Regions from separate parts of the Homo sapiens genome. Here regions 2 and 3 are each linked to region 1. Evidence: fine-mapped expression QTL. A gene starts in region 1. Each other region holds a variant in brackets. All regions are shown on one strand. Distances are between the middles of the regions.

Region 1 (5,350 bases):
AGGACCTATGCTCTTAAACACTGTGTTATACTACCTCTTAGCAAACAGTACTACAAGCTTTTAAAAAATATATATTTTAAAAAGTGTTCATTGTTGTACTTAACTTTTTTTTTTTTTGAGACAGGGTCTCACTCTGTCTCCCAGGTTGGAGGGCAGTGGCACAATCATGGCTCACTGCAGCCTCGGCCTCCCCAGGTTCAGGCCATCCTCAAGCCTCCCGAGTAGCTGAAACTAAAGGCACGCACCACCATGCCCCAGCTAATTTTTGCATTTTTTGTAGAGACAGAGTTTTGCCACTTTGCCCAGGCTGGTCTCCAATTCTTGGACTCAAGTGATCCGCCTGCCTTGGTCTCCCAAAGTACTGAAATTACAGGTGTGAGTCACCATGCCCGGCCAGTACTGCAAACTTTCACTGCCTTTCAAACTTCCATTGATTCTCAAGCAGTGCATCTCAACATGTTATATGTAAAAAAAAAAAAAAGACAAAACAAAAAAACTTTGCCCCCTCAAAATTTGATGTGCTATACTGAATAGAAATAGTTTCTGAGGAGGTTTCTACTCTCACAGGCAGAACTGGCTACATATTTAGTAGAGCCCAGTGCAAAAGAAATATATGGGGTCCCTTGTTAAGAAGTTATGAAACATTTTAATTAAGAATGTGACAGTAGAGCATTAACTCAACTGTGTGATCTTTTTTGAGTGTGAAGCACTGTGAGACTACACAGTAGCATACCATGAAACCCACCCTGCTCACAGGGTCATAATTCTGAATCCAGCCTTGTTCCCGTGCAGCTATCATTTTGCAGACCTGCATAAAGCTTTGTAGCAGAAATACTCGTGACCTTTTAGTAAGTCTTTCCCAGTAACACTCTAGTATCTCAACTGAGAGCATTCGGAGGAAACAGGAAGTAGGACTTGGGAGGGAAACAAGGCTACCAGGCTACAGTCTAGATGACGTGTTCTATGAAAAAGGAGAAGCATAGACCAATTTTTGTCTTAGCAGCCAGAGTGAGATGGTAGTCAGGAAGTGGGACGAAGAAAGAGGAAGCTCTCGGGAACTCCCACCACCCCACAAAGGGGGAATTACTCTTTTCTTCCATCAGAATGGTGGCAGAAACCTGTGAAATACATCCATTTGTCTTTGTTTCTTGGAAGGGGTTCATGTTAATTTATGTCTAAAATTAACAAGCCTGGCATTGGTTATTCAAATGCTTTTTGCCCTTTTAAAAATATAGACAAAAATAATGTTTTAACCTTTCTTCCTTCTAAAAGTAGAAAAGAATTGCATTACTGAAAAATACCTGTTATTAATTCTTAGACTTTGTTGTGCACAAGGGTATTGTCATTCAATTCTGTAGGCAGTCAAGAATCAGAGTCGGTGCTTTTAGAATCCAAGTACATAGGCTTAAGCTCTGGTCCCTCCCGTTATTGATTCTGCAATCTTGAGAAAGTTAATTGACCTCTCTGAACCTTAGCTTTTTAATCTGCAAAATGAGAAAAATCTTAAATAATAACAACCTCAGAGGATTACTATATGCATTTGATGCATAAAGGTACTTAGTGTAATACCTGCCTGCCACATCACAAGAACTCAACAAATTATAGATATTTTTATTTCATGTAAATGCACATGTTTGTATACATAAATATTCATACATGTATAAATATATTTTACACATGTATATAAAGTGTGTAATATAGACACATATGTATGTATATATGTATGTGTATATATACATACATATATTTTGAGTTCCTGAGTTTTTAAGCTGTCAGATATTGGTGAGGAGAAATGCTTAGTTAGGAGGATGCCTGTAACAGAGCTTCTTTTTGGGCTTCTGCCTGTCATTGCTAACTCAATATTCAACTTACATAGCATTTAAATTGAATTACTGCTGCCTGCACAATTATGGGCTTTCTTAGTATAATCCCTATGCTTCACATCAAGAAGACTGAGTGTTTACTTGAATCTAAACCTAATATAATGCTTGGAAAAAGCCAGGTGTGCTTCCTGTCTGAAATGGTGGTAATGTACTTCCAGATGTTTTTCAGAGCATTGATTGGGATATATAAATTGCCATCTATTAAGGTTATTTTACTTAGCATCTCTCTCCCTAATCCCTAGCTATCTGATGTATCTTTTATGTGTTTCTTGATTTTAAGCACAGAAAATAAAATGGAAAATAACTTGAAGCTCTAGTATCTTTTTGCTAGTACACCAACATAGCATATATCCAGGTTTCCCTTTAAAATTTCAGTTTTATAGTTCCCTCAAAGTTATTGAAAACAGAGGTTTCGTTATTATATTCTCAATACAGAATTCACTAAGAAAATTAATTTTAAAAAAGAAGAAAAGCAGAGGCAACTGTATTCCCAATATAAGCAGTATTTACCACTTCTTATTGTGTAAATATGCAAATAAAATGAAAATAAGGAATGCTTCTCTGTTGCTTTGGTAGTGGATAAAATAAGTTCAACAGTGTTTTTCTAAAAATCTATTTGGTAAATGTGTTTCCTGTGAAATGAGTTACTTGTTTTTTGTCATTCAATTGCAAAACTGCATGTGAAAATAAAATAAATGTGAATGTGAAAATAAAAGCCTCACAAAAATTCCTCTGCATGAACATCTCTGACTGGGAGGTTTGACTGAATAAATTATTCCTGGGCTTTTGAATTATTAATCTTGGCTGCAGGATATGCAAATAGGATATGCAAATAGGACACTGTAATAACCATGTCCAGTGGCACAACACTGGGTCAGAAGCTATATCCAGCTGCTGGCAGAGTTCCTGTCAAGGGATCAAGTCTTCCAACAGAATGGTAAGCTACATGGCAAATTGTGCCTCTCAGTGTATAAAGTAAGGCCAGATTTCCTTCTAAAGGTGACCTGTGAGCAATTAAGGTTTTCAGTATTAAGTGTTTAAATTAATTCTTTATAAATAGATGTAAAACAGCAAAATAATTGAAAAAAAAAAGTCATTTTTATCTCTACGTTTATTTTTCAACAAATTAACTGTCTTCTTTTAGTTGTCAAATACTAATTTTATTTTATGTAAAAGGATTTATTATATTTGCTAACATCTCAACAACTTATATTTCAACAAAATAGTAATTGGATTTACCTAAATAAATATAACTACTTATGGGGAAAAATTAAAGTTCCTAAATGATTTGAAACAATCATGTATTTGATACATACACACACACACACACACACACACACACACACATATACATACATATATATATATATATATATATTTTTTTTTTTTTTTTTTTTTTTTAAGACAGAGTTTCACTCTTGTCACCCAGGCTAGAGTGTCTGAGTGCCAGAGTGACACATTTACAGCATGTGTTGGCTCACTGCAACCTCCGCCTCTGGGGTTCAAGCAATTCTCCTGCCTCAGCCTGCAGAGTAGCTAGGATTACAAGCGCCCACCACCACGCCCGGCTATTTTTTTTGGATTTTTTAGTAGAGATGGAGTTTCACCATGTTGGTCAGGTTGGTCTCAAACTCCTGACCTCAGGTGATCCACTCATCTCGGCCTCTCCAAGTGTTGGGATTCCAGGCATGAGCCACTGTGCTGGGGCATAATATTTTTATGTTTAGAAAATAATGTATTTGGGGGAATTTTCAGGCATCCTAAAAATTAAATTTAACATTTATGTGTGTAAAAATGATATTACCCAATAATTAATTTACTTAGGAAAAATGAAAAATTGCAGAAACCATTTCTATTCTACCTTCCATAACTTTTCAAAATGTGTGTGGTATTCTTAAAGAAGTTAATACACAATTTGTGCCATACTATTACTTTTTAATACCTTAATTTCTGGTGTAATGTATGGAATACATAAAAATAAAGTTACAAATGTTAAATTATTATATCTTTTCAGTGTGAATATATATTTTTGCTCAAATTATTTAGTAATCAAAAAAGTAATTTGTTAAAAAAAATTCTCATGTTACCATGTAAATTTGCCTTAAGGTAGCACTTAAAAGTAAACATTTTACAAATGTTATTTGTTTAATTGTGATGACTATAAAAACAAACAATTAAAAAGCTAAGAAACTATCACATATATATTTTAAAGTAAATTTCAAAAATGCAGATTTTCAAAAGGCTGAATATATTTAAAGTAAAAAACATTTTCAAGTTAAGTATTATTGGTCTGCTTATGTGAGTAAATTAGATATTGCTTCTAGTTCAATAATTCTAACAGTTTTAGATATATTTTTGGACTGGAAACTAAAGATTTCACTTTAATTTCTGCTCTTAAAAAATACCTATTCAAAATAATTCATCCAAATCAGTTACAATTTATTTATCACTATTTCCATTTCCTAAAAATTAAGAATATAGCCACTAGATAGCAGAAGAGAGAATATGAATTTTTCATGAGGGAATTTTCTCTTTAATTGGGAGTTTTGCTTAAAGGAGCAACTTACTTCATATGTTTATAGAATTGCGATGCCACACTAAAAACATACCCAACTATAAACATATCCAATTTGAAATATAGTATCTTCAAAATTTTGTATCCTAGTGAAGTTAAATTGGTCTGCAAATATTGCACAGCTCATATTTATAAAATCATAATCTATTAGAATTATGAACTTAGAAAAAATGAAACAAATGTATCAAAAAATTATAAAACATCATAAAAAAATCTCATTTTTATGAATAAAAATTCAGGTAAATATTAAAATGTAAAAGGGTACCCAAATATTAGGAGTGGTCTGTTTACAGACCATTTTTATTTCTTATTTTTGCCTATTTGATTTTATGAGTGTTACACCTTAACAATAATTTTACACATACATTTTTAAAAAGTTGTTTCAAAAAAATGAAGAAACAACTGTATGAGAAGAAAGACAAATATGATAATTTAGTCATTCATTTCTCTTATTTCAGCTCTACTCCTTCCCTACTACTCCTTCAATCCCCGACCTTCTGGGCTACTATAAAGCAGAATGCTCCTTGACTTTCATGTGACCCGTCACCTGCCTGAGTGATAGTTGCAGGAAATCAGGCTCTAGTTGCACAAGTCTTTGTGGCTATATTTTCCTTCCATTGCAGTCAAATCTTTCTGCTGTGCACAATACATAAGCTATTAACATTACCAGTGGTGACTAGGCAGAAAGATAAACGTTATGACCAGAAAAAAAGGAAATGCAAAAGTGAAACAAATTTCTTGTGTCAAGGAAACTTTCTATACCTTAATTTTCATTTGAATTTGTGCACCAGCTTTTTGAGTACCCACAAAATAACAAGAGCTCAGAAATAAGGCCTGAGAAGGTCCAACATTTAAAACTTGGGCAAAGAAGGATTAAGCCACAAAAGAGCAT
Region 2 (5,000 bases), 44 kb after region 1:
AAAATCACTACATTTAATTTGTTACTACAGCAATAGAAAATCAATACATCATTTATTAGTGTTACTTGTTCTTGAACCTCATATTGAAGGTTCTGTTATATAGTCTTTACTCTTTTGTGCCTAAATGTCATTCACACAACATAATATCTATGATGTTCGTGTCCATGTTGTTACACGTAACAAGTTTGTTCACTTTTGTTGTTATATAGTGATCCATTGTGGTATTGTTTGGCTCTGTGTCCCCACCCAAATCTCATCTCTAATTGTCATCCCCATGTGTCAGGTGGAGGAACCTGGTGTGAGGTAACTGGATCATGAGGGCGGTTTCCCTCATGATGTTCTCATGATAGTGAGTTCTCATGAGATCTGATGGTTTTAAAGTGTGTGGCAGTTCTCCACTTGCTCTCTCACTGTCTTGCTGCCATGGGAAGAAGGTGCTTGCTTCCCCTTTGCCTTCTGTCATGATTGTAAGTTTCCTGAGGCCTCCCAATCATGCTTCCTGTTAAGCCTGTGGAACTGTGAGTCAATCAAACCTCTTCTCTTCATAAATTACCCAGTCTCAGGTAGTTTTTTATAGCAACGTGAGAACGGACTAATACACATTGTATGCTAACAAAACAATGCATTGTTCATGATCTGGTTTATTATCCAATCTAGTTTTTGGTTATTGTGAATAAAGCTTCAGTAAACACTCTGATCTTTTAGCAGATGTGTTCTCATTTCTCCTGAAATAGGATAAGTATATGTTTCTCTTTACTGAAAACTTCCCAAAGTCATCCAAAGTAGTTGCATCATTTACTTTCCCACCAGCAACTCACACAGCATACAGTAAACATTTTCTGAACTTAATTAAATTACTTTTGCACAAACTATATTGCAGTTTTGGACATAAAGTAGTTTCTTTGTTGGATTTTGCTAAAATCGACTTACCTGTCTACATGATGTTCCTGGAAATTTAAGCAATAAGATTTTGCAAAGAGCAGGCTAGTTACCACATCCAACATTGGCTATATTATATAAAACAAATGCTCAATCTTAAAAAGCATACTTCTACTGTTTCATAATTGAATTAAAATGAATTAACATGTACTTATATACAAAAATGATACATTCTAATACTCTATTATTTTTATATTTAATACTCCATCTTCTGCAAGATGGTATTTTGAGATTGTTTTTTCCTAGAATTATTTTTCAGCTCCTTTTTCTTCCTCATTTAATAAGCCAATAATTTCTCTCATTTCTACCACCTACTTATGCTTCTTTTCTTTTTCCCCAAGAGACCCTGATTTAGTTTAGGCCCTCATAATATTACCTGGATTATCGCAATAGCCTTTGAACAAATTACTGCCTCTAGCTTCGAAATTATTCTCCACATTCTGCCCACCATCTTCCTATCTTTTTATAATCCAAATCTAATTTTAGTTCTGGTGAAATGTTCTCTTTTTTCCAGAGTTGTATTTGCTCTCTTTCCTGTGATCTTATTGCATTTGTACACGACTTTATTATTACTCATCTTTAGGAAATTGTCTTTGTGTTTTCAGTTTCTAACTGTGAACTCCTCAAGAATGTGGAGGCTCTCTTGCTAATTTGCATATTAGCTCAACTTATTACTGATTCCTGCACAAAGGAGATGCTCAAAATATTTGTTGAATTGATCCCTTCTACTAATGAAGATATTAATGTATTAAGGGAATTGAGGATATTTAAAATGTTCTTCAAATAAATATTTAAATTTCAAAATATCTAATGCCGAGTAAAAGTTTTCCCTATAAATGATGTCATTGGGCATTATATTGAGACTCTTTCTGTCTCCGTTTCTATAGAGTTTCCTAAAGGCTGAGAACAAAACAAAGAGAGCAAGAACTTGCAACTTCCAAAGTGAGGCTAAACTCCCTGTACAGACCTAAAATAGGAGGGGCCCAAAATTGA[C/T]GTTTTGACCATTAGCTTCTCACCCACCTTATGGGTACAAAAGAGTTAAGTTTGAAGATGCCAGGGAGTTAGGGAAAGAATTGGTTTTTGACAGTTATCTGGAGGAGGAAGATATGATGCTCCACCTCACTCAAGCCCAGTGAGAGGACTAAACTCCACTTCAAAGACTAAGTGGAGAGCCTACATGGGTCTGGTGTTGCTTAGGAACACAATCAAATTACCTGATTCATGTCTGAGAAGAAAGTGACTGGAGAGAGTTGGCTGAGATGACTTCTGACTCTAGCAGAGAGAGTTTTATAATAGCCATGCTCCCAACAAGTGTTTGCTTTTCTGGAGCAAAAAACCTAAGGACAGACATTGGTGTGTGATCTTTATTCATGGGACCCTGTCCAAGGGGGTTCCTGCTAGGGGCAAAATCTGACCCGAGAGGCAGAGGGAGATTATAAATTATCAGCTGAAAAAGAAGCACTGTCCTGCAGTAAAGCTGCTGTTGAAGGGGCTCAGTCAAAACCAGCTGTATAATTTCTGGGGCCCAGTGAAAAATGAAAATGCAGGGTCTCTTGATCAAAAATTATTTTAAAAATGCAGAGGCAACAACAGAGCATTAAACCAAGCCTGGGACCCCTCTAAGCCTGTGGTCCTGAGATTCTACATAGGGCTCACACCCATGAAGTTGGCCCTGACCTGGTTGTGCAGTCACACAGCTCACAAAAGCCCTCAAAAATGACCACAAGAGAAATGGGCAGATTTGAACTACTGCCGCAGTGCCCCCCAACCCACCAAATGAATGTCAGATTGCAGAGGTATTGGTGAAAGAAAACACCTTCTGCTCTTTACCTCTTTCCTCTTCTTCTCTTGAACCCTCAAGTCAGAGGCAGCCTTGTGGGAAGAAGAGTAGAAACTTGGTAGGGACATGGACCAGAATGTGTGTGACCACCTCACCACTTCTCCCCACTGCAGACTTCTGGTGGGAAGCAGACAAAATAAAGGGAAGAAGTTTAACTTTAGGTGAAGTTAGCAATTTTAAGTATTACACAGAGATAGGTGATTTAATTACTGAAATGAAACAATTTAGGGGGGAAAGGTAACTAGGAAACCTTTCTTCTTTTAATTTCTGAGAATTTATGGGACTTGCCCAAGATTTTTTTCAAGGTGGTGATGAAGAAGATGCCAAGACAGTGGATTTGCAGGGCTGTGATGGGAAAGAGTAAAGTACCTTTATAAATGTGCCCAAAAGAGTTCTTCTTATTCACTATAATGATAACGACTATTTTTATTTATATACTCAAATCTCTCCGGGTAAACACACACATATCCACACACAAACATTCATGCTCACATATATGAATTGATGTTGAAATATACATACATTTGAGGTAAAGAAGTTGAACTTGTGACTTAATTGAGCCATGTCTCTGAAATACATCAATTATAAGCCACAGCAAAAATATTGCTTATGAAAGAAACCAAAAACAGAATGTGTGCTTTAAATTTTTGTTCTTGTTCTACTTAAATTTGAGAAACTAGGAATATAAACCTGGCAGATGGGGGTGGGGGCATAACTCTAGACAAAGTTAGAAATGCAGATAAGGTATTCTGGCCAAGTCTTTAATTTTGGAGGTTATGGTTAAATCATCTGCAATGTACAGTTAAGAAATGTGCTTTTACTGCCCTCAAGTGGTTTTAAAATTGTCACTGCAACATTTCTGACGACTTCAAAGTGAATGTTTCAAAACCCTAAGCAGTCTTCACATTTTCCAGGCTATCTGACAAGGGAATCTGAAATAATAATCTTTTATTCTGAAATAGTTTCTAAATAAGCAAATAATGAAATGGATCAGGTAGATTTATGTTGTTGTGTTGAAATATATGCACTAATACAGATTTGTAAAATTGTTTCTCTTCTTTTTTTAAAAATGTAACTGTAGCTTATACATGGACTCTCAGCTGGTCAGGGTTTGCGTAGGAAGATAGTATGACAGTTACTTCTTCTTCTAAATTAAGCAGCTGAAAATTATATAAATATTCAGAGAATGTAAGCTTCAACATCTTTGTAAGTGCTGTTTCTCTGCTTCCCTTTCTACCTCACAGGAGAACACCTGAGTAGAGCAGAAAGCTTGCTGGGCCAGCCCTGCCTGCTGGCTCTTTGCTAGACTGGGTGGGTGGCCCACCGTGTTGCTGCCTTGGCCCCTCCTTGTCGCTTTCGGATGCTGCCAACCCCTTGTGATATGGTTTGGCTGTGTCTCCACCCAAATCTCACCTTGACTTGTAATAAACTCCACGTGTCAAAGGTGGGGCCAGATGGAGATAATTGAATCATGAGGGCAGTTTCACCCATACTGTTCTTGTGGTAATGAATAAGTCTCACGAAATCTGATGGTTTTATAAATGGGAGATCCCCTGCATAAGCTCTTTTACCTGCCACTATGTAAGGCATGCCTTTGCTTCTCCTTTGCCTTCCACCATGATTGTGAGGCTCCCCAGCTATGCTGAACTGTCAGTCCATTGAAGCTCTTTCCTTTATAAATTACCCAGTCTAAGGTATGTCTTTATTAGCAGTGTGAGAACAAACTAATACACCTTGAGTCTCAGTCATGCTCTCCTCCACCAGCCCATAGTTTAAGAGATTACTTGCAGTTTCTGCTCTTGGCACATTTACTCCTCACCATTGTGGGCCATTCCAGGCCTGCTGGTTCTTGGCTCTCATCAGCCTTCTTCAGCACCCCCAGGGAAGCACAAAAACATGTCTATATATGTTCACACCAAAAGACAGCCCATGTTGGTGCAAGGTTTCTATCCTGAGCTTTCCTTTTGCTGAAACCTCCTACTGTTCACATGTTCGCTGATCAGAGTCCCCTGGAAGTCTTGTCAACACACGTTTCTGGGCCTATACCCAGAGTTTCTGATTCAGTAGCTCTGGGTGAGTTCCAATGACTTGATGTTCTAGCAGGTTCCCAGATGACGATGCTACTGGTTCTGGGACCACTTTTTAAGAACCACTGGCCTAAACCAGTACTTCCTCCAATTGTTCACATAGAGTTACATGTAAAATATAATAAAATAGCTCA
Region 3 (5,350 bases), 57 kb after region 1:
TTTGGCGGCACTTGAGGAGCCCTTCAGCCCACGGCTGCACTGTGGGAGCCCCTTTCTGGGCTGGCCAAGGCCAGAGTCCACTCCCTCAGCTTGCAGGGAGGTGTGGAGGGAGAGGCGCGAGCGGGAACCGGCGCTGCGCGCGGCGCTTGCGGGCCATCTGGAGTTCCGGGTGGGCGTGGGCTTGGCGGGCCCCGCCCCCGGAGCAGCGGGCGGGCCCCGCCGACCCCGGGCAATGAGGGGCTTAGCACCCGGGCCAGCGGCTGCGGAGGGTGTACTGGGTTCCCCGGCAGTGCCAGCCCACCGGCGCTGCGCTCGATTTCTCACCGGGCCTTACCTGCCTTCCCGCAGGGCAGGGCTCGGGACCGGCAGCCCGCCATGCCTGAGCCTCCCACCCCCTCCATGGGCTCCTGTGCGGCCCCGAGCCTCCCAGACAAGTGCCACCCCCTGCTCCACGGCGCCCAGTCCCATCGACCACCCAAGGGCTGAGGAGTGCGAGCGCACGGCGCGGGACTGGCAGGCAGCTCCACCTGCAGCTCCGGTGCGGGATCCACTGGGTGAAGCCAGCTGGGCTCCTGAGTCTGGTGGGGACGTGGAGAACCTTTATGTCTAGCTCCGGGATTGTAAATACACCAATCAGCACTCTGTATCTAGCTCAAGGTTTGTAAACACACCAATCAGCACCCTGTGTCTAGCTCAGGGTTTGTGAATGCACCAATCAACACTCTGTGTCTAGCTACTCTGGTGGGGCCTTGGAGAACCTTTGTGTCTAGCTCAGGGATTGTAAATACACCAATCTGCACTCTGTGTCTAGCTCAGAGTTTGTAAACACACCAATCAGCACCCTGTGTCTAGCTCAGGGTTTGTGAATGCACCAATCGACACTCTGCATCTAGCTACTCTGGTGGGGCCTTGGAGAACCTTTGCGTGGACACTCTGTATCTAGCTAATCTGGTGGGGACGTGTAGAACCTTTGTGTCTAGCTCAGGGATTGTAAACGCACCAAATCAGCGCCCTGTCAAAACAGACCACTGGGCTCTACCAATCAGCAGGATGTGGGTGGGGCCAGATAAGAGAATAAAAGCAGGTTGCCCCATCCAGCAGTGGCAACCCGCTCGGGTCCCCTTCCACACTGTGGAAGCTTTGTTCTTTCACTCTTTGCAATAAATCTTGCTGCTGCTCAGTCTTTGGGGCCGCACTGCCTTTATGAGCTGTGACACTCACCGCGAAGGTCTGCAGCTTCACTCCTGAGCCAGCGAGACCACAGAACCCACCAGAAGGAAGAAACTCCGAACACATCCGAACATCAGAAGGAACAAACTCCAGACGCAGATGCGCCACCTGAAGAGCTGTAACACTCACCGCGAGGGTCCGCGGCTTTATTCTCGAAGTCAGTGAGACCAAGAACCCACCAATTCCGGAAACATTATGGCCGCACTGCAGAATACCAGGTATTGCCCCTACCAACCCCGGACATTGCCTGTCATTAGCGCTGTCACCAGCACTGTTCAGACTCTGGAACTCTTGTCTCTGCTACCTGCACTGGGACAAAAATCTCCTTTGTCCCTGTATCTTTGCATCACTTGCTCTAGAGTGGATTTCCTGGCAGGTTATATGCCTTTATCCTCGGTACTGCAAAATCTGCAAAAGCAAGCGCCCATCATTTCTTACTTTTGTGGACACCGAAAGTAATGGATAATTCCTTACCCCATTCCTTGCCCAAGAAAGGAAGGGACTGCATGTGATAGGCAGCCACCACCACCAGTGATATCAGCCTAACATATCATGTTTATATTATTCAGTTAGAAAAGGAAAAAATGGCCACTTTTAAACAACATTTATATAATAAACAGTTAAAAAAAAGGAAGAAGCTGCACAACCCAAAGAATGTAGAAGAAAGAGCCCCTCTGCTACATCTAAACCAAACCTGTTACTACTTTGCCATGTTACCTTGAACAGGACCCTTCACCTCTCTGCTCCTGTTTCATTGTCTTACAAATGAGGGGTTGGACCAAGTGATCTTAAGGTCCCTTCTTTTTTGATATTCTCTAACTAAAACATGACAGTATCAAAGGGGGAGACTAGGTGGCTTAGTCTGTGGCTTTGCCAATCAGATCTCAATTGGAAGAAACAATCATGAGGTTGAAAGCAGGTTTGTGCAAACAGACAAGAAAGAAAACCAAGGTATTTTTTAAAAATTGTATCATTTGTGCTCTGATCCAGAAAGGGAAATGGGTTTTTTTGTTTGTTTGTTTGTTTGTTTGTTTTGGAAATGGAGTCTCGCAATTCTCCTGCTTCAGCCTCCCGAGTAGCTGGCACTATCAGTGCACGCCGCCACGCCTGGCTAATTTTTTCTTTTTTAGTAGAAATGGAGTTTCACCGTGTTGCCCAGGCTGGTCTCAAACTCCTGAACTCAGTCAATCTGCCCACCTCGGCCTCCCAAA[G/C]TGCTAGGATTACAGGCGTGAGCCACCGCACCTGGCCAAGGGAAAGATTTTAAAATTCATCTCAAGGGGTAAAATATTTGTCACCAACTAGAAAGCAGAATATCATATCAGAAAAAATCACTCTCACCTTTGTCCATATGCTGGAAGGCAACTGGAGTAGCCATCTGGATTCATTCATAAAAATTTGCTCTGTTAAAGCAAAGTGGATACAAGAGCACTTGGTAAGCCAGGACTGTATTGTTTCTGCATCATTAAGGTTACTCCTGTTGTCATTTTCATTGAAATCATAGGCATCATCTGGCAGGCTTTTTTGTTTTTTTGTTTTTTTTTTAATTAAGGGCTAGGGTTTTGTTGTGTCAACCAGGCTGGAGTGCAGTGGCATGGCCATAGCTCACTGCAGCCTCAAACTCCTGAAACAATTCTCCTGCTTCAGCCTCCCCAGTAGCTAGCACTACAGGCGTGCACCACCACACCTGGAAATATTTTTTCATTTAATATTTTATAGATACAAGGTCATGCTGTGTTGCCTAGGCTGATCTCAAACTCCTGGCCTCAAGTGATCCTCTCACCTTCGCCCAAAGTGCTGGGATTACAGGTGTGAGCCACCATGCCTGGTCTGGCACTGGCAGGCTTTGGTTTCTAATGCCTAACTTGCCAGCTACTTCCTCTAATCTAATTTTTTACAAACCCAAGAAGCTCTGAAGATGAGACAAAATAATTTTTTGAAAAATTTTCTTTATAAACACACACATACATATATCAAAAACAGAGAGCCTGGTCATGACATAACATTGTATTGAAGGGGTTCTTTTTATTTTTCTCAGATCTTAGGTTTATTCATCTTTTATTTTTCACCATAGAAATCCTATGACTCATAAAAACACAGGGCCAGGAGTCCTGTGACTCTATATTTTCATAGAGAGAACATGATTTGGAAGACCAGACTTAATAATTTTACTCTGTCTCAAATTTTGAATAGTGTTTGCTTTAAAAGGCATCTTATCACCGAAAGCAAAGTGAGAAAAATGAAGTCAACATTCACTGACAATTCTTGCCACTCAACCCTTTAAAAAGATAACCAACTACATAGTTACTGAGGGGTCCTTCATTATTAGGGAGTAAGGGGAATAACTTTCACATCTCTATAGTATTTATGGATCTGACATCTGGATAATAAGGTGTTTTGTAAGTAAATCTTTCGATAACATTGTTTTAATTTTCTGAGAAAAACTCAACCTTATTATCAAAACGTATTTCACCTGACTATATTTTCCCCAAATATAAAATTTACCAATAGGAGCAATCAGTCAGTACATACTAGGTCTTACTCATTAGTATATTAATACCAATTTCACAACACTGCATAAACAAATCAGCTTCATAGAATAAAATTCTAAAATATTCTGATGTAAATTAGTAAATGTATGCAGGGAATTATTTATTTACATATTAACATTAAAACATTTGAAAAGATTACACATCAACTTGAAGTACAAACACTCTGCAGATCATCTTACATTTTCTCTTGTGCCTTCTCAGGCTAAATGTTCTTAATGAAAAATGACAAGAAAAAGGTGTGAATAGTCAGCAGTGTTAATGCTAATTTTTGAGGTAAAGGAGACAACTAGCTTCAAATAATATTTGAGTGAAAATGACTATTTCCTCAATCATTAGTCATAGGGAAAGGAGAATGAGAACACTAAAAAAAATTATTTAAATAGCACTTTATATTCAAATATTTTAATTAAAAATTCATTAAATATTTTAAACTAAAGAAGTAAAGCATTTGGAACCTAAGCTCCAGGCAACTAAAATTTGGTCAAAGTATTTCATGTACCTGTCAAATTGCAGATAAAAGTTGTAGTTTCTTTTTCTTTTTCTTTTTTTGTATTCATCTTTGGCATTTAAAGTAGATTAGCTAGTTGTTGGGTGTGGACATCTGTGTCTTGAGCTTTTCTCCTGGAAATCAATATTTATTTAATAAACCTTTTTTCTTTAAAGGCAAATTATCATCTGTTTTTTCAGGGTGGTCCCGGTACTTTCCAGTTATAAAATAAAATCGGCTGAGATTCAAGAAGTTCATTTGGCTTGAGGTTAAAAAGTAAATTTTGGCCCTTTTGAATTGAAACTTGGTTAGTCAGAACCTCTAATCATTTCCCTCTAAAAAACCTAGGGTTATTTTATTTTAGAAGGAGACGACTATTGAATCCATGAGTCACTCTAAGGCAAGTCTTAATATTAATCTTTAATTCTTTATATTAAATCTCAAAGGGCCGGGCACGGTGGCTAACGCCTATAATTTCAGCACTTTGGGAGGCCAAGGCGGGTGGATCACTTAAGATCAGGAGTTCAAGACCAGCCTGGCCAATATGGTGAAACCCCGTCTCTACTAAAAATACAAACATTAGCCAGGCATGGTGGCACGTACCTGTAATCCCTGCTATAGGGAGGCTGAGGCAGGATAACCGCTTGAACCTGTGAGGCAGAGGTTGCAGTGAGCCAAGATTGCGCCACTGCACTCCAGCCTGGGTGACAGAGCAAAATTTAAAAAAAAAAGAAAAAAAAAAACTCAAAGGGATATTCTGTTCTGTTCTGGGATCCCCAGTCTCCACTCTACACATAATATTGCACATTTCAAACCAAGATTAAGAAGGTGAACGAACTCAGCACTGGCAGAAAAAATCCCTTGACTTTTGCAAAGTCAAGCCAATTCATTCTGAGCCCATATGAAGAATATGTTATTGTTCTGATACCTTAAGCCAGGTTTTTTTCCATTATTTTTAAAGTACCCCTTTAATTAATTAGAAAAGCATAAAATTAAATTTTAAAGCATTTTGTTTTACGCAATCAATTCATCTTTAGAAATGCATAAGAGAACGTAAGGATTGTCATCCTTCATTTTACAGAGG

Evidence for each region.
Region 2: its variant is fine-mapped to the expression of SUCNR1 in whole blood (TOPMed, PIP above 0.99).
Region 3: its variant is fine-mapped to the expression of SUCNR1 in whole blood (TOPMed, PIP above 0.99).

The regions. Positions count from the first base shown.
Region 1 is chr3:151,870,887-151,876,236 of GRCh38, forward strand. It overlaps SUCNR1 (succinate receptor 1), which reads left to right and starts at 2,757. Exons shown (of 3, transcript NM_033050.6): 1 at 2,757-2,820. All of the region lies in intron 1 of AADACL2-AS1 (AADACL2 antisense RNA 1), which reads right to left.
Region 2 is chr3:151,914,846-151,919,845 of GRCh38, forward strand. The region is part of intron 1 of AADACL2-AS1 (AADACL2 antisense RNA 1); the gene reads right to left. Among named protein-coding and RNA genes, the nearest start is that of AADACL2-AS1, 11 kb to the right of the region's middle. The variant C/T (reference allele first, on the strand shown) is at 1,933.
Region 3 is chr3:151,928,047-151,933,396 of GRCh38, forward strand. LOC107986047 (a long non-coding RNA gene) reads right to left here. Exons shown (of 3, transcript XR_001740567.1): 2 at 4,279-4,400; 3 at 2,506-2,630. It overlaps AADACL2-AS1 (AADACL2 antisense RNA 1), which reads right to left and starts at 129. Exons shown (of 3, transcript NR_110203.1): 1 at 1-129. The variant G/C (reference allele first, on the strand shown) is at 2,442.